Regions from separate parts of the Homo sapiens genome. Here regions 1 and 2 are each linked to region 3. The links come from fine-mapping of genetic effects on gene expression. A gene starts in region 3. Each other region holds a variant in brackets. All regions are shown on one strand. Distances are from middle to middle. Region 1 has its middle 22 kb from the start of PSMD11. Region 2 overlaps MYO1D (myosin ID). Region 3 holds the start of MYO1D (myosin ID).

Region 1 (8,186 bases), 450 kb before region 3:
GTAAAACAACATAGAAAACCTAAATATTAAGAAATGAAAAATGATAACATCAGACAAATAGTAACCAAAGGACATTGGGAGTAGCAATTGAATACCAGACAAAATAGGATGTGAAAAAAAATTAAGGGAGCATTTTATTTTGATAAAAGGAAGAATCTACCTAAAATAAATTAGCAATCATAGAAATAGTCTCACACTATTAGTATTAAGGAAACATAAAACAACAAGATACTATTGCACTTTTTTTTTTTTTTTAGCTACTTTGTTAACTGAAACTATTGCCCTTTAGATTGCCCAAAATGTCAAGTACGGGCAAAGATGTGGAGAAAATGATAAGCTCTCACAACTCTTGAGATAGGGATAGGGTATATTGATATAGAGTCATTTGGAAGAGCAATTTGGCAGTATCTAATAAAATGAAAATGAATGCCTGGGTGCAGTGGCTTACGCTTGTAATCCCAGCACTTTGGGAGGCCGAGGCAGGCAGATCACTTGAGGTCAGGAGTTTGAAACCAGCCTGGCCAACATGGTGAAATATTGTCTCTACTAAAAACACAAAAATTAGCCAGGTGTGGTGGCATGTGCCTGAAATCCCAGCTACTCAGGAGGCTGAGGCAGGAGAATCGCTTGAACCCAGGAGGCAGAGGTTGCAGTGAGCTGAGATCGCACCACTGCACTCCAACCTGGGTGACAGAGCGAGACTCTGTCTCAAAAAATAAAAAAGAAAACAAATGTGTTTTTATAATTAAATGCTTATATTTCTGGGTATACTGAGAAACTTTTAGATGCATACAAGAATGATCATGGTAGCATTGTTTGGAAGTGCAAAAAATCAAAGAGTAATAATCTCAGTGTCCGTTAATAGAATGGATAAATAAATGCGGACTAATCATACAGTGGTATATACACAGTTAATAGGGATGAATTAACTCTATATGCAGTTCACTCAACAATACAGAATGAAAAAAAGCAAGATGCAGTACAATATATTTGGTATGGTACCATTGTGTAAAGAAAAAAGCATTATTCACACATAGCAATATTATATATCATTGCTGATAATAAATATCTATCTGTCTATATATCTCTAAATACCAAAAAAGCTAGATGGAAAAGGTTTTGCTCTGCATTGGAGGGATGGGAGTGGGAATGGTGTTTAAAGGGAATATTAGCTTTCTTTATAATATTTTGTTTTTTAAAAAAATCAAATTTGGCTGAGCATAATGGCTCATGCCTGAAATCTCAGCACTTTGGGAGGCTGAGGCAGGCGGATCACTTGAGGTCAGGAATTTGAGACCAACCTGGCCAACACGGTGAAACACCATCTGGCATGCGCCTCTAGTCCCAGCTACTTGGGAGGCTGAGGTAGGGGAATCGCTGGAACCAGGGAGGTGGAGGTTGCAGTGAGCCGAGATCATGCCACTGCACTCCAGCCTGGGTGACAGAGCAAGACTCTCTCTCAAAAAAAAAAAAAAAATGACATTTATAATTGTTAATTCTGAATGATGGGAATGTAGGTGTTTATTTTATAATTCCTACTACTTTTTTTTTTTTTTTTTTTTGAGACAGAGTCTTGCTCTGTTGCCAAGGCTGGAGTGCAGTGGCACGATAATTCATTGCAGCCTTGAACTCCTGGGCTCAAGTAATCGTCCCACCTTGACCTCTCAAGTAGTTGGGACTACAGGCATAGCCACCATGCCTGGCTAATTTTTTTAAAAATTTTCCTTTTTTTAAAATTTTTTTTAAAAATTTTTTATTTTTTGTAGAAATGGAATCTTGCTATGTTGCTCAGGTTGGTCTTGAACTCTTGGCCTCCCCAAATGCTGGGATTACAGGTGACAGCCACTTTGCCCCACCTAATTCCAACTACTTCTTTCCCTTTAATGTTTTTTCTTGGAAATTGACAACTAAAAAAAAAAAAAAGGAAATTAAAGTAAAATGGAAGAAATGGTTAAACATTAGTAAATATTTTTCATCTAAGAGCTATTATTTCTCAGTCTATCTCTTCAAAGTTAAGAAAAAAGATATGAAAATCACTAAGTAGTAGAATCATTATATGTTTTAGCTACATGTTTTATTATTGGACACTTTTGTTAACATCTTACTATGGAAAGATGAAGAAATTGAAGTTAACACTCAGCTTCCTATCTTCTCTCCTCATCCCATTGCTTTTGGTAGTTATATTATCTGTTGAGGTTTATAGCATTTACATTAGGTCCTGTGTAGTCTTAGTTCTATATTCAGGTGGAATCACTGCTCACCACCAGAAGTACTTTCCCATTACTGATTTATTTGTATTGATTAATTATTAAATTAGATTTTGTTTCTTTCTTTTTTTTTTTTTTTTTTTAGAAAAGCTCTTTGTCTTAAATTCCTTGGATTTTTTTCATGTTGAGACTATCTCTTTTTCTTATATTTGAACAACATCTTGACTGGGTATCATTTTCTTGGGCCACATTTTGTCTCTGAAATTTGTGGCATGTTTCATGTTTTTCTGGCATTGAACCTTGCCTCAGAGAGGTCTGAGATAAGTCCAATTCCCAACTCTGCTTCACCCCTTTTAGGCAACTTGCTTTATTGTCTGGTTGGTTGTGTTCAAGGAATTCTTTCTTTAACTTTAATGTTTAGTGACTTAACTGGGATAGAGATCAGTAGCTACCATGCTGTGTCAGTTTTTTTTTTTTTCTTGGAACATGGTGTGTTATTTCCATCTGTAACTAATTTCCTTATTTATTAAAGAGAAATTTGAAAGATTATTTCTTTGAATAATTTTCTCATTTTCCTGTTTTATTCATAAAGTCCTTTACTTCAGGGACATTAGTTAACTTTATAACAGATGCCATGTTCTTCATACCTATTGTCTTCTCTCTTATTCCTTTGTTTTCATCGTCTCCTTTCTCAGCTTTCATCATCTTTTATCTTTTTCTTTCTTTTTTTTTTTTTTGGGACGGAGTCTTGCTCTGTTACCAGGCTGGAGTGCAGTGGTGCGATCTCGGCTCACTGCAACCTCCGCCTCCTGGGTTCAAGTGATTCTCCTGCCTCAGCCTCCCCGAGTAGCTGGGACTACAGGCGCATGCCACCACGCCCGGCTAATTTATTGTATTTTTAGTAGAGATGGGGGTTTCACCATATTAGCCAGGATGGCCTCAATCTCCTGACCTCGTGATCCGTCCACCTTGGCCTCCCAAAGTGCTGGGATTACAGGCATGAGCCACCGTGCCCAGCCCTCATCATCTTTATTTTTAACCTTTGTGATATGTTCATGTGTTTCCTTAAGTTGTCTTATTTATTAGTTTTTTAATGATGCTGTTTTGATCCTGTCTGTTTCCTTGTCTCTTCAGTCTTCCTCTTCATCTCAAGTTGTCTTATCGTATTGTCTTTGGGCCTTTTTTAAAAAGAGAATTCATGGCCAGGCGCAGTGGCTCATGCCTGTAATCCCAGCACTTTGGGAGGCCGAGGTGGGTAGATCACCTGAGGTCAGGAGTTCGAGACCAGCCTGGCAAACCTGGTGAAACTCCATCTCTACTAAAAAGACAAAAATTAGCTGGGCGTGGCAGTGGGCACCTGTAATCCCAGCTACTCGGGAGGCTGAGGCAGGAGAATAACTTGAACCCTGGAGGCAGATGTTGCAGTGAGCTGAGATCATGCCATTGCACTCCAGCCTGGGTGACAGAGCGAGACTCCATCTCAAAAAAAAAAAAAGAAAGATAATCGATTCTATTATTAGACTGTTGTATAAAACAAATCGTTTGTGGTAATTTCCTTTCATTTCTTGAGTTATGCTATCTTCCAGAACGAGGTTAGTTATTGAAGGTTTGGAAAGGTCTTTATTTTCCCTCA[T/C]GCCTGACTGGTAGAGGATCAAATTCTAAGCTGAAAACAGAGTTTTATTTATTTTTATTTATTTATTTTTTTGAGACAGGGTCTCACTCTGTAGATCCTGTACAGAGGCTGTAGTGTAGTGGCACAGTCACGGCTCACTGCAGCCTTGACCTCCTGGGCTCAAGTGATCCTCCCACCTCACTCTCCTGAGTAGCTGGGACTACAGGCGCAAGCCACCATTCCCAGCTAATTTTTGTATTTTTTGTAGAGACAGGTTTTCGCCATGTTGCCTAGGTTGGTCTAGGACTGCTGGGCTCAAGCGATCTGCTTGCCTTGGCCTCCTAAAGTGCTGAGACTGCAGGCATGAGCCGCTGCACCCGGCCACTGAAAACAATAGTTTAATTTTTATTATATTTATAGATATTTTTCAGCAACCATACTTTTTATTTCCAAGATCTCTTTCTTGTTCTCTGCTTGTTCCTTTTCTATAGCAGACTATATTTTGTTAAACTGATTAAATATATTCCTAAAAACTTTCTGAGTATACTTTCTGAAATTTGGAATTTCAAAATAGTTCCTTTCCATTAAATTCTGTTTGTTTACTTTGGTTCTGCTCTGTTTGCTTTGCTGTTTCATCAAATGTCTGGGAGTTCTTGGCTGTCCATTCCTATTTAAGAATATAGGCATGTAGTATGGACCATCTATACTGTCTTGTAGGTAATCTGTTTCTCTAGTATAGGCTCACTCCAGGATGGGTAAGCTGGCTTAGGTTTCTTTCTACAAGGGTGGTATATGTCAAGTGGTAGGCACAGAATGCACAGAGAAGGAGCAGTCTGGGAGGTTAGGTCCTCTGAAATTCCAAGATGAGACAGGTTCCCACTGTTAGGGCCAGCACTCACTCTAGAAGACCTACTGTATCCAGGCAGATCATTATTTTCTGAGACAGAGTCTTGCTCTGTTGCCCAGGCTGGAGTGCAATGGCACAATCTCGGCTCACTAAAACCTCCACCGCCTGGGTTCAAGCAATTCTCCTGTCTCAGCCTCCTGAGTAGCTGGGACTACAGGCGCATGCCACAAAGCCCAGCTAATTTTTGTATTTTTAATAGAGATGGGGTTTCACCATATTGGTCAGGCTGGTTTCGAACTCCTGACCTCAGGTGATCCACCTGCCTCGGCCTCCCAAAGTGTTGGGATTACAGACTTGAGCCACCGCCCTCAGCCAGATCATTCTTTTTAATCTTTGCTTATCTGATGTGCAAAACAGTCAGAAGCTTTTATGATTAAGAAAGAATAAAATTAAATGGACTAACCATTTTTGAGAAACTAAAAAATGAACAACAAAATAAATGAAAGGAAAATAAAAATAAGTAAAGGCTGGGCGCGGTGGCTCACACCTGTAATCCCAGCACTTTGGGAGGCCAAGGCAGGTGGATCACGAGGTCAGGAGATCGAGACCATCCTGGCTAACAATGGTGAAACCCCATCTCTATTAAAAAATACAAAAAATTAGCCAGGCATGGTGGCGGGTGCCTGTAGTCCCAGCTACTCGGGAGGCTGAGGCAGGATAATGGCGTGAACCCAGGAAAAAAAAAAAGAGAAAGAAGTGAAGATCAGCTGGGTGTGGTGGCTCGTGCTTCCACTTTGGGAGGCTGAGGTGAGAGGATTGCTTGAGCTCAGGACTTTGAGGCCAGCTTGGGCAACACTGGGAGAAACAGCCTCTATAACAAAAAATAAATCAAAAAAATTAGCTGAGTGTGATGGTGCATACCTGCAGTCACAGCTACTTGGGAGGCTGAGGTGGGAGGATCGCTTGAGCCTGGGAGTTGGAAGTTGCAGTGAGCCAAGAACGCACCACCACACACTGCATTCCAGCTTGTGTGACAGACCAGGACCCTGTCTTGGAAAAAAAAAAACAACAGTAAAGATTAAAGCAGAAATTAGTGAATAAAACCCAGAAAACAATCAAATTAATGACAAATCTAAGAACTTGTCTTTTAAAATAGCATTGAAATAGAAAAATCTCTATTAAGATAAATATAAAGAAGCAAATTAAATACAAAGAAGCATTAAATATATTGCATTAGTAATGAGACAAATGAATGTGATCAGATTTCATGGAGGTTTAAAACATTCAAGATAATCTTTTAAATTTAATTTTTTAATTATTATTAAATTTTTTTTTTATAGAGATGAGGTCTGGCTGGGTGTGGCAGCTCACGCCTGTAATCCCAGCACTTTGGGAGGCCGAGGCGGGTGGATCACCCGAGGTTGGGAGTTTGACACTAGCCTGGCCAATGTGGTAAAACCCTGTCTCTACTAAAAATACAGAATTAGCTGGGTGTGATGGCACACACCTGTAGTCCCAGCTACTCAGGAGGCTGAGACAGGAGAATCGCTTGAGCTTGGGAGGTGGGGATTGCAGTGAGCCGAGATCATGCCACTGCACTACAGCCTGGGTGACGAGTGAGACTCTGTCATAAAATAAAATAAAATAATAAAATAAAATAAAATAAAATAAAAAATATAAGGTTTTGCTGTGTTTCCCAGGCTGGTCTTGAACTCCTGGGCTCAAGAGATGCTCCCACTTAGGCCTCCTAAAGTGCTGGGATTACAGGTGTGAGCCACCATGCCCAGCCTCAAGAGAATCTTGTGCTAATAATTCTGAAACTCATAATGAAATAAATATTTTAGGAAGGTGTATATTACCAAAATTTAGTCAAGAAGTAGGAAAAGTAACTGGACGCAGTGGCTTATGCCTGTAATCCAGCACTTTGGGAGGCTGAGGCAGGAGAATCACTTGAGGCTAGGAGTTTGAGACCAGCCTGGGCAACATAGTGAGATCCACATCTAAAAAAAAAAAAAAAAAAAAAAAAGAAGAAGAAGAAGAAGAAGAAGAAGTAAAAAAGGTGATAGGCGGGATGCAGTGGCTTATTCCTATAATCCCAGCACTTTGGTTTGGGAGGCTGAGGTGGGCAGATCATGAGATCAGGAGTTCGAGACCAGCCTGGCCAACATGATGAAAACCTGTCTCTACTAAAAATACAAAAATTAGCTGAGCGTGGTGGTACGCGCCTGTAATCCCAGCTGCTCAGGAGGCTGAGGCAGGAGAATCGCTTGAACCTGGGAGGTGGAGGTTGCAGTGAGCAAAGATCGCGCCACTGCACTCCAGCCTGGGCAACAAGAGCAAAACTCCATCTCAAAAAATAAATAAATAAATAAATAAATAAATAAATAAATAAATGTGATAAAAGTTGGTAGAAAAGTGAGAAATTATCCTAAGACTCTCCCTACTCCAACTAGAATTGGGCTGGTTCTATAGAGTTTTATGGGCAAGCTCTAATTGTGATACTTTACTTCCTATCTGAATATTGCCACACCTCTAACAAAACATCCATAGTATTTACTTCTTTCTATTCAGTTCTCTGGTAAATTAGATAAGAAAAGGCAGATGTTGTAAACTTGTACTATCTATCTACCTACTCAACAGATGCTAATAGGTGTCAAGCCTTGCCCCAAGAGCTGGTAACAAAGATGAACGAAAGATCCACAACTTAAAAATATTAAGATATATTTATATCATTTATATCAAAGATATATTTATACCATTTCATTTGGGGGCAGCAAGTTCCTCTTTTATTATTATATCCCTGCTGGTGAGAAATAACCCCATTTGTATCTTATGGTGAATATGATCTCTGATTATGTTAAATACTTAGAAGGCCCGGCATGACGGCTCATGCCTGTAATTCCAGAACTTTGGGAGGCCAGGGCGGGCAGATAACCTGAGGTCAGGAGTTCAAAACCACCTGGCCAACATGGCGAAAATCCATCTCTACAAAAAATATGAAAATTAGCCAGGCGTAGTGGCACATGCCTATAATCCCAGCTACTCGTGAAGCTGAGGCAGGAGAATCCCTTGAACCCGGGAGGCAGAGGATGCAGTGAGCTGAGATCATGCCACTTGCACTCCAGCCTGGGTGATAGAGCGAGACTTCATCTAAAAAAAAAATAAAAAATTGTGCACCTGTAGTCCCAGCTACTCAGGAGGCTGAGGCAGGAGAATCGCTTGAACCCGGGAGGCAGAAGTTGCAGTGAGCTGAGATCGCGCCACTGCACTCCAGCCTGAGCAATGGAGCAAGACTCCATCTCCAAAAAAATAAATAAATGAATAAATAAAAATAACATAAAAAATAAATAAAAATTAAGAAACCACAACAAATACTCAGAGATAGAGGATGTTGGTGGGCTTAAGAGGAGGAAAAATCTAGTACTAGGAATGTTGTGGAAGTGGTGGCTATTTTTTGATTTTTTATTTTTATTTACATATACTTTTTGAGACAGAATATCTCTCTGTTGCCCAGGCTGGT
Region 2 (8,186 bases), 61 kb before region 3:
AAAATGGCAAACAATTATTCAGTGTTTTTTATGTGCTAGGCACAATTTCAAATGTACTACAAGAATTATCTCTTTTATTCTCACAGTTCTAAGAGTTTCTCTTCCTATTTTACATATGGTAAAAAATGAGGACAAGAGAGGTCTAGTAACTTGCAAAAGGTTACAAAGGTCAGGGGTGATAGAGCCACAGTTCAAACCCAGCAGTCTGACAGCAGAGTAAATGCTCTTAACTCTTTATGTTGTGTTACCTACACTTAAGTTAGAGGAAGTCAGGATGAAACATGAGAGTAATAAGCCTTCCAAGTGAGGGAACTGGAGAGACAAGTAGAGTACCAGGTCAAGGGAAGGAGTACTGACCTTGAGATATAGCCTGTGGGGTTCTGGGTAGGACAACGGAGAGGACTGCAGAAGTTCCAGCAGACACTGGGCACCAACTTCACCTGCTGCACAGTTTTGCTTAGAAACAGCAGCATGTTATAACACATTCAGCTTCCTTGCCTTAACAAAGCACTAAGTCACTTACAAATAGGAAAATAATATTTATTGAGTACCTACAAAATGCCAAGCACTAGACTAGGTAGAGACTTTATATGTATAGGCCATTTAATTCTCACAATCACCTTAACCATAATGGCGACATTAACTTTTCATGAACAATTTTGCCAAGCAAATATAACTTATACACATGGAGTCATCCACACCCATCATCCAATCCATTGGCAAATCTTGTTAGTTCAATCTTCAACAACTATCCAGCATTCAATCATTTCTCCTATAAACGGTCTTCACTGATGATTTCCCAATATGTGAAAAGATACTCTGGCACTGACTTCAGTCTCTTCTTTATTATATCCTCAAATATCACTCTACAGACAAGTCTGAAAAAAGACTAGGTTCTTACACAACCTATTACTCATTCATCTAACAAATATTTTTTGTGCTAAGCAATACGCCAAGGGCTTAGATACAATGGTGATCAACATAACTATGGTCTGTGTTCCTCCAGACAGCCCAGTAGGGGATGCAGACAAGTAAAAGGAAAATGTAACAAAGGAGCTATTAGAGGAAATGCAGGGAGATATATTACAGTACAAATGAAAGGCAGTTAACCCAGACCTCAAGGACCGAGAAGGTGATCCCAGAAGTAACATCTAAGTTGAAAACTAAAGAATGGGTAGGAATTATTGAGGCGATGGGGTGGAGGAGGAGGAGTGGGAAAGAGTAGTGTGCCACATGGAGATCTCAGCAGGAACAGAGGCTGAGAGGCTTCAGAAAGAAAAAAGCATGTTTAAAGGATGGAAAGAAGTTCAGTAAGCCTGGAGCACAAGGCACAGAAAGGACAGTAACAGTAAAGGAAAGGAAAACTAGAGAAAAGAGAGGAGAATTAATTGCTGATGATGCAAGGGCCTTCCAAGTCATGTTAAGAAGTTCTGGCTACAGCATGGAAGTCTTAAGACTGGAGCTATGGAGACCAGTTAAGAGACAGCTGCGTCCATGGGATGCTTGATAGAAACCTACACTAGAGCATGGTGGTAGTCACACTCAAAAGATATTTAGGAGACTCAATTGACCTCATCTGGTGATTGATCAGATGGGAGTGGAGATGGTGAGGACAGACATGAATCAAGAATAACTAGATTTCTGCCATGGGCATTAGGTGGAAGGTTTAATACAAACTAGCTTTCACATGTTGGTAACTTTCTCGAGGCAGCAACACTTTTTAGAAAAGTGACCTGCCAGAGTTCAGGTCAGCCATCTAAAAAACACTTCTTGCCAGGAGTGGTGGCTCATGTCTGTAATCCCAGCACTCTGGGAGGCCGAGGTGGGCAGATCATGAGGTCAAGAGATCGAGACCATCCTGGTCAACATGGTAAAACCCTGTCTCCACTAAAATTACAAAAAATAGCTGGGTGTGGTGGTGTGCACCTGTAGTCCCAGCTACTCGGAAGGCTGAGGCAGGAGAATCACCTGAACCCGGGAGGCGGAGGTTGCAGTGAGCTGAGATCCCACAACTGCACTCCAGCCTGGCGACAGAGCAAGACTCCGTCTCAAGAAAACAAAAACAAAAACAAAAAACACTTCTGTGTTAACATTCTAAATTTATCCCTTCTTTTTTTCCTACTGCACTTATAAATAAGAGTAAATGCTCAATGAATTTGTAAGCACAGAAACCATATAAATGACCTTATAAAACGGTGTGAGAGGAAGAAGGATAATGAAGGGCCTCCTTAATCAGAGTAGCCATTTGTTGGCTGTTAAAAGAAGAGACATATAATTTGGAGTAATGAAAGCAAGAGAAAGAATTAGCAGACTGTTTTAAATGAAAACATGTCTCTTCTAAGCACGATGCATTACAAATAAGACAAATTAATCATTGTTGAAAATTTAAATATTCACACTGGAATTGCTGTATCATCTATTAGAAGTTGCCTAGAATAATGCTAATTGCAATTACAGATAAACTCCAAACTTTCAGTGGCTTTACACAAGAAGTTGATTTATTACCCATACATTAGTCCAATACAAACGTTTCTGTGGGGAGGGAGTAGGCCTTTGCTCCATGCAACTGTTCAGTGACATGTCCGACAAAAACGCTTCCATCTTCAACACATGACTTCAAGTTACGCTGCGCATCAACAGCCAGCCAACAAAAGTGGCAGAGAATGGAGAATCACTTGCGGGAGGCTTTTATGAGTTAGACCTAGAAGTGTCTAGACCTCAGAAATTCCACCAATGAGTACTCTGTCACATGACACGTAACTGCAAGGGAGGATGTGCCTCCAAAGAACAGGAAACACATTTTGCTGAATAATTAGCAGTCTGTTATGGATGGTAAAATACTGAAGACAAGATATATGACTTACTCACCTTTGCAGAGCTTAACAATATCTTGAAGAAAATAGGCGCTCAAGGCTCAAATATAATTCTGTTGAAAAAATACTTAATGAAAAAATTATCTCATAAGAGATCCATTTTGCTACATAAACTACTGCTAAAATACATAAACTGTAGGAAAAAAGATTTTCCAGCTCTTGACTTATAGAAGTTGCCCATTTCAACCTGGATTTTCCTTATTTACCAGGAAGACACCAAAAATATTGTGGTAGAAGAAATCATTCCAAACTTGTGGCTCAAGAATTGTGAGAACTATCTCTAAAGTATGGAAAAATATCAATGATAATGACTTAAATATTTTAAATTTTCATGTTAGTTCTTATTCTCTTAACTTTTTTAAAAGCATAGTTATTATGCTTAAGTCCAATCCTGGTCAGGCAGCCCTCTTCCCTCTCGTAGATTTGCCAATGAGAACAGGAGGCCTAAAGAGCACACGCTTTGGCAAAAGAAACAAACAAGAAAGCATGCTGGCTCTGAATTCCCTTGGCCTCAAAGTGACACATCACTCTGTGCAGAGTTCATTGGCCAATACCACAGGTTAGTCCTGTGGTCCCCACCTAACTGCAAGCTAGGTAGGAAATGTTGAGAAGGACAAGGTAAGTGATTACCGTCTCTGCCACACCTGTATAGACCACAAGCCCCAGTTTCTAGGTACATTTTCCTATGTAAATTTCGGGGTTGTATTCTCTCATACAAATTAGTTTCTTGTAAGTTTGTTTACTAGTATCAATAACTGAGAATCAAGAGGATAAAATTAAACTTCTGGGCTTATAAACAAATCCTTTATCCATGGTAACCTAGTAGCAACTAACTGATCTGAAAACCAGTGGGAAGTAGCCAGTTGATTCTTCTCAATATCTCTCAGCTACAATATCCTAAACAAGGAATCCATTCATCTATCAGTCAATAAATATTTATTGAGAATGTCTGTGGGTCTAGTGTGATGTTTAACACTGCATTAAGCGTCTGGGAGTGAAAAGGGCACATTTGGTTCCTGCCCTGATCAAACTTAGAGTCAAGTGAGGAACACAGTTTTAAAAAATTATCAACAATCATATTATTACAATCCAGACAAACAAGAGATATAGGAAGAGGTCACAGTGCTAACACTGTATTAAACATGAGACCTGACCAGGTTAGGAAAGGCTTCACTGAGACAAACGCAGGGCCCAGAAGGATACATAAGGGTTAGGCAGCTAAAGAGAGAAGGTTAATGTCCTAGACCAAGGGAAAGGTTGGAAACTTAGTCCAATGTTATTTACTTTTCGTCTTAAACTTTGAAATCATTTTAATAATTATTTTGGTTTCTCTCCACCTGATTGCTGTAGTACTATTAAAACTGAATTTTAAATAATTCTGTTTGATTCTAAACAGTCAAGTTTGCAATAGATTGCCATGTTTTAACAATATCTTCAAATTCTAGGCAAGGGAAAAAACATTTGCATATAATTTTTCTCTAAACATATTTATACTATGTATTTACAATTAGTAAATCCTGAGTTACTTCATTGTTTTTATATTAAGTGGTCTAAATCTAATAAATGGATGCACTCACCTCAACTGCAGATATTATGAAAAATTCCTGGATGTAGCATAAGTATGAGTTTAAAATTCAACATCAAAACCTTAATCCATTTTCATCACACACACAGGATTTAGTCTTTCTTCCAATATAATACAGTCCCTTTTTGAATTTTTTTAAATAATAAAAAAATTAGTGTTTTTAACTAAAGAAAAAGATGACAAGCGGTAAGAAATGCCACAGAATAAAAAGTTTTTGGTGAGGAAAAATTATGTAACTTAGGCAAGTAACTACTTGTACCTCAAATTTCTATTTAATGAGGTACTAGATGTATTGCTATAAATAAAATAAAAATAGTAATTATCTGCTAGCTACTTCACAGTGATTTTTAAATTTTTTTGTAGATACAGGGTCATGATATGTTGCCCAGGTTGGTCTTGAACTCCTGGCCTCAAGTGATTCTCCCACCTCGGCCTCTCAAAGTGTTAGGATTATAGGCATGAGCCACCATGCCTGGCTAACAGTAATGTTACAAGAATACATTAGCAATCTACAAATTTTATGCATTTCTAAAAAGATATGAAGACTGAAGACTGAAGACTGAAGCTTCTTTATGTTGCTGAGTAACAGGAAAACAACCACCAGATTATTTAATGGTTTAGCAACAAAAAACTTGGAACAAGAACATATTTGTACCTCTCTTAATTACAGTAATAAAATGCATATACA[T/C]TCTATGCCTTTTGAAGGTAATATTTTACACTCATAAAATGACTGCAGTTTAAAAACTGGTTTTGTCAGCTAAACACAGGAGTTACCATTTTCAAGGAAAGTAATCCTTCCCAGCTATAAAAGCCTATACATTTATGACTTGTTTTCAGTTCAAAAACTCAAAATTAACCAAAATAAAAGGATCCAGTAGAGGTTGATGTTCCTCTTTCTTTGCTTTTTCTCTAAACTGTTTTCAAGTAGTATAGTAATAGCCAACACTCACTGAGCGTTACCATGCCAGGCACTGAGCTAAGTGGTTTACGTGCATTATCACATTTAATCTTCACAACAACCCTATATGGTATGCACTTTTAAAGAAATATCTTACTTTCCAGATAAAGAAATGGAGACTTTAAGAGGTAGTAGGGGCCGGGCGCGGTGGCTCACGCCTGTAATCCCAGCACTTTGGGAGGCCGAGGCGGGCGGATCACGAGGTCAGGAGATCGAGACCATCCCGGCTAAAACGGTGAAACCCCGTCTCTACTAAAAATACAAAAAATTAGCCGGGCGTAGTGGCGGGCGCCTGTAGTCCCAGCTACTTGGGAGGCTGAGGCAGGAGAATGGCGTGAACCCGGGAGGCGGAGCTTGCAGTGAGCCGAGATCCCGCCACTGCACTCCAGCCTGGGCGACAGAGCGAGACTCCGTCTCAAAAAAAAAAAAAAAAAAAAGAGGTAGTAGGTTCTTGCCCTACAAGTATTGTGAAAGAGTTGAGATTCACCTAAGCAGTCTACTTCTAGAGCCAGTGCTTTTAACCACACCTCTATCCTGCAAATAGTCTGTAAACAAGTCTTAGTGATGCTTCTGTTCAAACTGTGGATCGCTGCTGCCCCTGCAGTCTCTGACCATTCTTCCCAGCAATGCTGAGCTGTGGTCCCATGTGAAGGCCTCATTATGGAAGGAGGGTTGGCTAAGTATCCAATAGTAGCTCCAGCCCAGTGGGAAGGTACCACCACTTGAGATGACACTGCAACGGAGGCAGATGCTCGATGGACACATTCAAGACCCATTCGGCTCAAGGATCAAAAAAATGGGGCTTGCAAGTTCCCATTCTTCTTTTCTAGAAGAGCTGCTGAGAGAGAGACCAATGGGGGAAATAAAGTGAAAGCCTCACTCTTCTCTAGCCTAAGTTTTAGAGTCCAGTGAAGCATTGCAGCATAGGCTTTGTAGTCAGAAAACCCTGAGATCAAATCCTGGTTCTACCACTTGCTATAGCGATCTTGGGCAAGGGGTCAGATCTCTCTAAGCCTGTTTCCTCATCTGTAAGGAAGGGTATTATATCACATAAGGTTACTGTGAGGACTAAATTAGACTAAGTATGCAATAGGATACCAGGGTCCAGTTTTCTTTGGATGTAATGGGCCTGGAAAATTCCTTAAAATCCTTTTCACCTACAAAATCTTATGAAGTTCTGCCTCATTTTCTGCTTAAAAACTTTAAAAAATTAATAGAAATAAAAGAGAATTCTACTAGAGAGATAGGTTGACGTTACTTCTTCCTTGCTTTTTCCTTAAAGTGGAATGTTAAAAACTAGGATATGCCTGGAAAGTGTTCTATCTACAAAAAAGGAAGTTAGCAGCCGCTGAAAAGTAACTACAGATGGCTATTCACTTTACTCTGAAAGCATTTGCTGTTGATATAATCACACCACAGGAAAACATCATAATGTTGGCTGAAAGAAATCTGAAATGACACAGCAATAATGCTTCATCATGTAGAAGTTGGTTTCAAGTTTTTTTTTTTTTTTCGGTCTGGATAGTGTGATTGCAAGAAGGGAGGCTATGCTAGCTTGGTTATAAGCAGGGAAGTTGGCTGTGAGGAGATAAACAGAGATCTCACAGGAATTCTGGGGTAGAAATCACTGGACCGGAACTGAAGGGCTATCTCCCAGCTTCTGCTTCTGCCTTTTCATTCAGTCCATTCCCCTCCGTTTACTCAACAGTTCCCTCTGCTTTGGTGGCAGTTTCTGCTCCTTCTCAAGGCTGACTTGCACATGGCTCTGACTTGCTGTGGCCTCCTCTCCATCATTCTCTGCATCAGGTGCTTTCAACCTTGATTTTATTGTTTATATATACTTATGAACTTTTCTGCAGGGAATGTCCATACTTTCATCAGATGCTTCAGGAAAGCAATGACCCCAAAAAGGAATAAAAACCACTGTTCTATCTCATGACACTCTACCTTTAGTTTCTACTAGTAACTCTTTTAGTTATTCAGTTTCTTAATTCCAAATTCCTACCAGAATAATAATAATGGCTACCATTTATGAAGCTTTGAGTATGAGCCAGATACTGTTCTAAGGACTTAACTATTTTTAATTCTCAAAACCACATTATATAGGATCTAATATTACAGAGAAGGAAACTGAGGCATAGTGAACTTTGGGTAACCTGCTTAAGGTTACACAACTAGCAAGTGGCTAAGTCGGAATTTCAATCTAGACAACATGCATAGTACTTAAAACTGACTGAGTTAAACTTTGCAAATCAAGCCACAGGTTGTTGGTAAGCCCACAGGTTGGTCATCTTTGGATTATGTCTCATTCCAGATGTGGCAAGAGGGAGAGACGGGAGACAGGAATCAAGTGGTTCAAAACATGGTCACTGTTCAGTAAGGCCATAGAAGGGTAGTTTCTCTTTTAAAAAGTGAGAACAAGGATGCACAGAAATGGGAACTCTTGCACACTGTTGGTGGGAATGTAAACTGGTACAGCCATTATGGAAAACAGTATGTAGGTTCCTCAAAAAATTAAAAATAGAGCTACCATATGACCCAGCAATCCCACTTCTGGGTATATGTTCAAAGGAAAGAAAATCACCATCTTGAAGACAGATCTTCACCCCATGTTCACTGCAGCATATTCACATTAGTCTCAAGATACGAAAGAATCAAAGTGTCTGTTGACAAATGGATGGATAAAGAAAATGTGATATACACACATACACAGAAAATGGAATACTATTCAGTTTTAAAAAGCAAATCCTGCCATTTGTGACATGAATGA
Region 3 (8,186 bases):
TACATGACTTAAAGGAAGGAAGCAGGCCTTGCAGAAGAGCCAGGTGGGAAGGGAGGACAGGACATTCCAGACTGGGGAGTAAGAGCAGGAACTACAGCTTGGGAGGGCAGGAGTCATGAGGTACAAGCACACATGGGAATTTCACTCACACATCCATATATACCAATGGACCAAACACGCTCAATTTCAGCTATATACAACCAGAAATATGTGCCCAACCACCAATATTCCAGGAGACAAAAACACTTCAACATCACAGAACAGCACCTGGATTACGCAGTGGTGGGTTTCTGGTCACCTTCTGCAAAGTGAAAGGAAAGAGAGGACTGTTTTCTGTCTGGGTCAGAATTTATAGTTTCAGAGGAGGGTAAGGGTGCTACCCTTTGCTGGCACTGTGTTTATGGCTACAGGGAACCAACTATTTTAATGTATAAGTAAGTCATGAACAATCACTGATCTGTACAATGAGAACCACAGCCAGTTCTCAGAGTCATCAAGGACACACAGATGAGATACATACAAATACATATACATCTGTACACCCAGGATTTTGAATGATGTGGAGATTGGGTATAAAGGTAGACCTAAAAACCTGGGCCTTAGCCAATGGCCATATGGAGAGCTGGTGATTCCTCCCACCTCTCCACAACACCAACCCCTTCCCTTCCAAACAACTTAACTTATTCACTGTCACCCAGAGTCAGCTTTCATGCCGCCAACCCCTGCTCATGCTGCTTAATCCACCTGGAATGCTCTCCAGCCACGAGTCCACCTTTACAAATCCTACCCATCCTTTGGAACTCAGCTCAACTCCTCTCTTCCTCTATAAGGTGTTTTGGAGTCAACCTAAGGTATCTCTCTCTCTTCTGAACTTCCAGAACAATTTCTATAATTACTTGACAAATAATCACCTAAGCTTTATAAGGCTTTTATCTTCTCTTTCTTTTCCTTTCTTTTTTTCTTTTCTCTCCTTCCTTCCCTTCCTTCCTCTTTATCTGTCTCTGTCTCTCTCTCTCTCTTTGTGTCTCTGTCTCTCTCTGTTTTCTTTCTTCTTTTTCTTCTAAGAGACAGGGTCGTGCTCTATTACACAGGCTGGAGTACAGTGGTGTGATCATAGCTCACGGCAGCTTTGAACTCCTGGGCTCAAGCAATCCTTCTGTCTCAGCCTCCTGATGTTGTTTTCTTGAACTATTCTTTAAATCAATAGAAAATTCCACCTTTCTCCAGGTCTTCATTGAGATGTCACCTCTTCGAGAGGTAAGCAGCACATCTTGTAGTTCTTTGGATACTCCTAGCTTATCTCCTAGAGTACCTTGCACACAGTAGAATTAAATTGCAGCATTCGGCCGGGCATGGTGGCTCACACCTATAATCCTAGTGCTTTGGGAGGCCAAGATGGGAGGATTGCTTGAGGCCAGGAATTCAAGAACAGTCTGCTCAACATAGCAACTCTAAGGGCCCATCTCTAAAAAATATAAATATAAATATAAATAAATTGCAGCATTCTCTTCTGTACACATAGGAGTTGTTAGGCTCACCTTAGTAATCTATTTTGAGATTCAAACTTCACACTTAAGAGACTTAATGCTTTAAAAAAAAAAGCAGAAATTCTAAGTGCCTTCCCTCAATTTACTTTTTAAAAACCACAAGAGTTTTAATTCTATTACAGAGGAGTAGTCCTACAAACTAATGTAGCCCTGTTAGACTCTATGCCTTCAATTTCAAATTCTGAAAATTCTGCAAAAGCTCTGGCTAAGCCCATGTATTTGCTGGAGGTGAAAGATGGAGGTTAAAATGAAAGGCTTCATATTCAACTGTTACTACATGGTCTTGTATACAGTATGTACATAATAAATGTACCAATGTCTGAAAAACTGAAATGATTATAACTGAGAGTGACAAAATTATAAAGGCATTTCTCAAAGCACACAACTTATTTCCTGTGGGGGAGAGGAGTAGAATCTCTTAATTTAAAACAACCTTAATCTATGAAATTGCTATGTAACTTACCCCTTTATCTATTTTATGTGCACTTGGGAAAACTTAAAACAGTTTTACTAATATGGATTTGCCAGGCACTAATCTTTGAAGTATGTATACACATATTATTAATAATTCATTTAACCCTCAGGACAACCCCAATCCTACAGACGGGAAGACTGAGGCACAGAGAGGTTAAGTAACTTGCTCAAAGATCACAGCAAGAATGCAGTGGAACTAGAATTTGAATCTCAACAGTCTGACTCTTAATCACTATGATAATGGGTATTGGTTATAGCTGATGTAGAGGTATATCATTTTGATTAATATTTGGGGTGATTTCTATAAAAGTTGTACATCCAAACCTTGATCAGAAATGTAACATCCTATCATTATGCTGGTATGTAATCAACCTGATTGACCCCTGTCAACTGGATTGACAGGGGTAGTTAATAATGAAATTAGGGTTAAGCACCCAAGCCTAGATTATGACTTTCACTTTATAAGCTTAAGGAATGATGTTTAGCTATAAACCTTAGAAGAAATGCAGCCAAAGCTTGCAGGGAAACATACACACGCACACCAAAACTCAGCTATTTTGAAATTCCACTTACTTTAATGTTTAAGTCAAACTACTTTAAAACTGTTTACATATTACTCTATCAAGGGTGAAATAATCGCATGTAAAGGGCTTTCTAAAACAAATCCACATCTTGGAAGCCCATTTTGGGGCGTTGAGTTGTGACTACGTTCTCAAGGATGTTAATAACACAAGAGCTCCATCCACTAACTCCTTGAAAAAAACCAAAACCATGAACGTCTTGTCAAATTCAGACAGTTTATCTTGGCACTGGCAAGTACAGCAGTCTCTTCGATGTCTGGAAACGTGTCTAATTACGTTTAGAGAGTAACTAAAAAAATAGCCAGTGTCCCGGAACAGACAGCTCAGGGATCACTCCATAGCATCCTGAATGACAGGATGGAACTACGCCAGGAGGAAAAAAAAAAGAAGGGCGAAGAAAGAAAGAAAAGAAGCAAGTGTAAAGCCGGGATGAGACGCCAGCCTCTCTCCAAAATAATCCTCCAGTCCTCCTAGGGCCTTCGGGGCCACCGCAACTCTCGTTCAAGTTATTTCCCTTCAGTTTCCATGAGGTCACCGGCCCGCCCACATCCCTCACCTGGCGCGGGGAAGCGCGCCCTCCCGCGCGGCACACCCTCTGCACCTAAACCCCGGACAGCGCCCAGGGCTCCCCTCTCAGGGAAGCGCGGCCCTTGAGCTCGACACGCCCCCCGCACCCCAAAGCGGCCGCACCCCAGGGGCGTCCGCTCTCGGGAAAGCGCAGCCGCGGAGCTTGGCAGACCCCCGGACACCGCAGCCCGGCCGCGCCTCCATCCCTGGAGCTTGGGCGCTCCCGACACCCCGGATCCGGCCGCGCCCCGAGGCGCCCCCTCTCGGGAAAGCGCAGCCTCGCGCCCCTGCGCGCGGCCGCTCCGCCCTCACCTGAGCCTGAGGTTGGCCATGAACTCGGGCATGGAGACGGTGTCCATCAGCACGAAGTCTGCCTTGCCGAATTCCAGGCTCTCCTGCTCCGCCATGGCGCCAGCGCGGGGGCTCAGGTGGGCGCGCTCGGGCCTCCGGGGCCGCTCCGTGGGCCCGCGATGAGCTCGGGAGGGGCCGGGGCGAGGCCGCGCCGCGAGGCTACGGGGAGGGGGCGCGCACGCCGCTCGGCGGGTCCGGGCCGGACAGAGGCCGCCTCGCTGCTCCTCGGCGCCTTCTCGGCCGGCGCGGCTCCGAACGGGACGCACCCGACAGTTTCCGCTCCTCCCGCCGCGGCTGCCGGGCGCTGTAGGGGCCGGGACACCGAGACGGAGACGGCAGCGGCTGGTCCCGCCTCCAGCCTGGGGCTCGTCCCGGCTCCGCCCCGCCCGGGCCTCCCGGCTCCGCCCCTCCCGGCCCACTGAGGAGCCCGCCCCAGCCGCGGCCCTGGCCGCCGCCTCTTCACCTGGGCGGCGCGCACGCGCGGGTGGGCGGCGGGGACGCGCGCTGGGCCGGGCGGCGGCAGCTGGGTGGCAGCGCCCCCTGGGGACAGGCGCTGGGATCTCAGGCGGCCAAGAGGATGGCCGCCTGCCGCCCACACTTGGTAGCTGCCAACAAAGTTAGAAAAGTAGTTCGTGGAGCTTTTCGCGAGGACAATTCATTATGATTCTGTCACCCTGCTCCAAAACCCACTCCCGCCTCTCTACTCACACCCTGCCCATTCTTGAAGTGGTGGTTCAAGCACAGACTGAGAGGTAATAATAATGGCTAACATTTTTGGGGCACCAAAAATGCCCAGAGCTGTTCTCAGCGCCTTAGAGAACTTTTAAGAAACTTGCCATACGACTAGGAAGTGGAGCAGCTGCGGTTTCACGCAGGTCATTTGACTTAGGAGCCGCAGCGTTCAACCACGTCTGACTACCTCCATTCTTCAGTGGCCCATTTTCTCTTCCACTCATCCGAGCATGTCATCAGACATTACCTTATATGATTATTAAGTTTTTAATATATCTTTGTATCATCTCTCCAGGATTATTGCGGATGTCTTGAGCATGGGACCATTCTTTTTGCATCCACCAAATAACTATTGTACTACTTTGCATATATAAATATGAAATCCATACTGGTTCAGTGGAATGAAGTGAGTTGTAAGTAGTCTCCAATTTATTGATACATTGGTTGAGCTTGGAAAATTCTTTTTGAACTCAATGTATTTTCCCAAAGAAAATATACTACAAATGACTTTCTTTCTTTTTTTTTTTTTTTTCTTTTTCTGGAGACAAATTCTCCCTCTGTCACCCAGGCTGGAGTGCAGTGGTGCAATCACAGCTCACTGCAACCTCAAACTCCTGGGCTCAAGCAATCCTCCAGCCTCAGCCTCCTGAGCAGCTGGGACTACAGGTGTATGACACCATGCCCAGCTATTTTTTTTAAATAAATGACTTTCTAAGGTATCTACATTTATTCAGTCCTGTGTTTCTGTTAGGACATCTTCTATTACAAAATCTACGAGGAAATCTAGAGGCCTCCAAGGACCTGGCTGGGCTTCAACTCTGGCTGAGTTTGAGATGAGTAAACCAGACTGAAGGACCTTGCCCAAGGCCTGCTTCAGCTGCCAGCCACCCACACTTGCTAAGAGAAAGGAAAGGAGCTTTGTCACCTCCTGAGGGACTGCCTCTGCCATCAGAAAACCACCCCAATCCCTGGCACCAGCAGAGCTGGGTTGCATCTGACTACCGTTAGCAGCTGTCCTTCAGAAGGAGGAGATCCACCTGTCTCGATATCAGTGTCCTCATTTGTGGAATAAAAGCTCTGGAATAAGGTAGGACTGTCCTATGGTTGGGTCATTTGTGGAGGTGTCGGTCAGTGGCTAAGTAGGTTATTGCATAGGGTATGGTTGTATTCCTAATGTTTGTATTGGCATGTTTTAACATAAGCAGAACTGAACTTCAAGAAGGAAAGAAAGAAATCTCAAACTGTATGCACTTTGGAGCATCCAGGGACCACACCCCAAAACCTTTTGGTAAATTATATATGTGTGTTCCCTGAGCTCTGTAGGTGTTAAAAATTAGGGCAAAATCCCAGGTACCAGGAAAAGAAACATCACGGCTTGCAGATGATGAGAGAGTTGCAGAAATTGTACAGTGGTTAGGAGCTATGGTGGGATACAATGTGGTTTCCAAATGGCCAAAGTAAGAGATCCTCATTTTAATCAACATCTTATATAGGAACCCAACATATAAAACACATATACAACATATGCAAAGGGTATTTTATTAATTTCTTGTATAAGTCCAAATTAGTATAAAATTAGGCATTGATGCTCTCATGATGAACCCAAATCTGCTCAATGGGGCTCACTATTAGCCTCAGGATTCCAGTTTACTTTTGTATGTTGTTTTCATTGTACTGTGTCAAGCAAATTCTTGTTTGTATAACTAAGCAGTAATTTGTTACCCATACAACTTTACATTCAGCATTTCTAGGCCAATGTGCAGTTACAACATTATTAATCAATGACACACTTGAGCAAAGTTCAGGTATATGCACAGCCGGCAGGAGAGACTGAATACTCTGGTCTGCATTCAGTCAAGGTAACCTAGAGCAGATTAGCTCATTATGAATGTTCTTTGTGATAAAATTTGAATAGAAACACATTTGGAGATGCATGTTTTTGTTACAGTTTAAAATATACAAAAAATAAAACAAATAAAAGTTTATATCCCCAATCATGAGACACACAGACACCATGAGCCTCCTGATATGGTCTCCTGAAAAAGACACATATCATTTACCTGCTAAAAATACGTAAATGGAATCTAATCATGAAGAAGCATCAAACAAACTCACATTAAGGGGCATCCTACAAAACAATTGACCTGTATTCTTCAAAAATATCAATGATGTGAAAGACAAAGAGGCTGAGGCACATCACTATTAAAGGCAATGGGTGATTCTGGACTGGATCTCCAACCAGAAAAATGTAAAGGACATTGTTGGGATAATTGGTGAAATTCAAATATAGACGCGATGTTAGATAGTAGGATAGTATCAATGCTAGTTTTTCTGAACTTGATCATTTTACTGGGATTCTGCAAGATAATGTCCTTGTTTCTAGCAGGTATCTGCTAAAGTATTTAGGAGTAAAATGATGTCTCGAACTGTTTGGCAAGAATAATAAAAATAATAAGATGAGGAGGTGGAAGGAGGGCGTGCATATATATTGGTAGACATATAAATGATTAAAGCAAATGATGCAAAATACTAACAAGTGGTAAAGTCATTAAAAATATATGGGACTTTTGAGGGGATTTTCTTTTGTACTATCCTCACAACTTTTCTGTAACTTTGCAATTAGTTTGAAATTTATTCATTTATTTTGAGACGGAGTCTTGCTCTGCCGCCCAGGCTGAAGTGCAGTGACACGATCTCGGCTCACTGCAACCTCCGCCTCCCGGGTTCAAGCGAGTCTCCTGCCTCAGCCTCCTGAGTAGCTGGGACTACAGGTGCATGCCACCATGCCCAGCTAATTTTTGTATTTTTAGTAGAAACGGGGTTTCACCATGTTGGTCAGGCTGGTCTCAAGCTCCTGACCTCATGATCTGCCCACCTCAGCCTCCCAAAGTGCTGGGATTAGAGGTGTGAGCCACCACACTCGGCCTGAAATTTAAACTTAAAAATTAAATAGTAATCTAAAACTGTGCTAAATAAAAATTTTTAATTTAAAAATATTAAATAACACTTAGAAATCAAAGTCACATCAGAATTTTGCAAACCTTCCAGAACTGAAGAACCAGCAGATATTTTTGAAAACCCTGGTCCAGGGTACCTCTTAGCTCTATTTGGCATAGATGTGCTAGGAGATTATAAACACTGAACAGGTAATTCTAAAAACAAAAATAATTAGATGTCAAATATACCCATATGCCCCTGAGAAGGTGCATCCTGTTCTCTGCCTGAAGTTCTCCCCGCCACCCCACCCCTCACTCCTATGACCTAGCTAACTTCCGCTCATCCCTCCGCTCTCAGTCTCAACATCACTTCCTCCAAGAAGGCTTCCATAATCTCCTGAGTCAGAATTGGCTGTTCCTCCTCTGTGCCTCCTGCAGCATCCTGGAAGTGCTGCCCCCATTACAGTACTAAATGCCCTTGAGCCTACTGTCTGTCTCTCTCACTCGTTTGTAAGGGCCATGAGGGCTGGAAGCTGTCTTTTCTGGTTTTTGATGTAAATGTAATTCTGGCACCTCCTAGCATAGTGCTAAGAGATGAAGTGCTTAATAAACTGTTGCTTGATAAATGAATATGGAATGGTCTGTGAACCTATGGGTCATAAAATGTGAGACTGTAAATCCACCCCCCTTGGTAGTTTTCTGCATTGCAAATTAGTCATTGTACAACATTAACCTCAGTCTCATCTCCTGCCCCGGAAGCAGATCTCAGGGCTGTGTTTATTTCTCCCCTGGGACCAGGCCTGCACACTGTGTGTTCACACTGAACAAAAGCTACTGTTCCAAAAACCCTTCTGTAGTTACCAGCCACTGCAGAGGGTCTACTCTTGATGATCCACGAAAATCAACCCTGAATTTTCCACCACAAATGTTTATTCCCATTCAACTTTCCCAGAATGTTTCTGGGCTGCCCTGCCCTCCCTCCCTTTACCAGAGGCTTT

Evidence for each region.
Region 1: its variant is fine-mapped to the expression of MYO1D in whole blood (INTERVAL, PIP 0.97).
Region 2: its variant is fine-mapped to the expression of MYO1D in blood mononuclear cells (TOPMed, PIP 0.98).

Annotation. Positions count from the first base shown.
Region 1 is chr17:32,418,598-32,426,783 of GRCh38, forward strand. No RefSeq gene overlaps it. Among named protein-coding and RNA genes, the nearest start is that of PSMD11, 22 kb to the right of the region's middle. The variant T/C (reference allele first, on the strand shown) is at 3,841.
Region 2 is chr17:32,812,293-32,820,478 of GRCh38, forward strand. The region is part of intron 1 of MYO1D (myosin ID); the gene reads right to left. Among named protein-coding and RNA genes, the nearest start is that of MYO1D-DT, 60 kb to the right of the region's middle. The variant T/C (reference allele first, on the strand shown) is at 5,147.
Region 3 is chr17:32,873,297-32,881,482 of GRCh38, forward strand. MYO1D (myosin ID) reads right to left here and starts at 3,828. Exons shown (of 22, transcript NM_015194.3): 1 at 3,482-3,828. The coding sequence starts at 3,576. MYO1D-DT (MYO1D divergent transcript) reads left to right here and starts at 3,559. Exons shown (of 4, transcript NR_184086.1): 1 at 3,559-3,597; 2 at 4,548-4,665; 3 at 5,004-5,339. RefSeq lists silencers at 3,164-4,153, 3,360-3,547.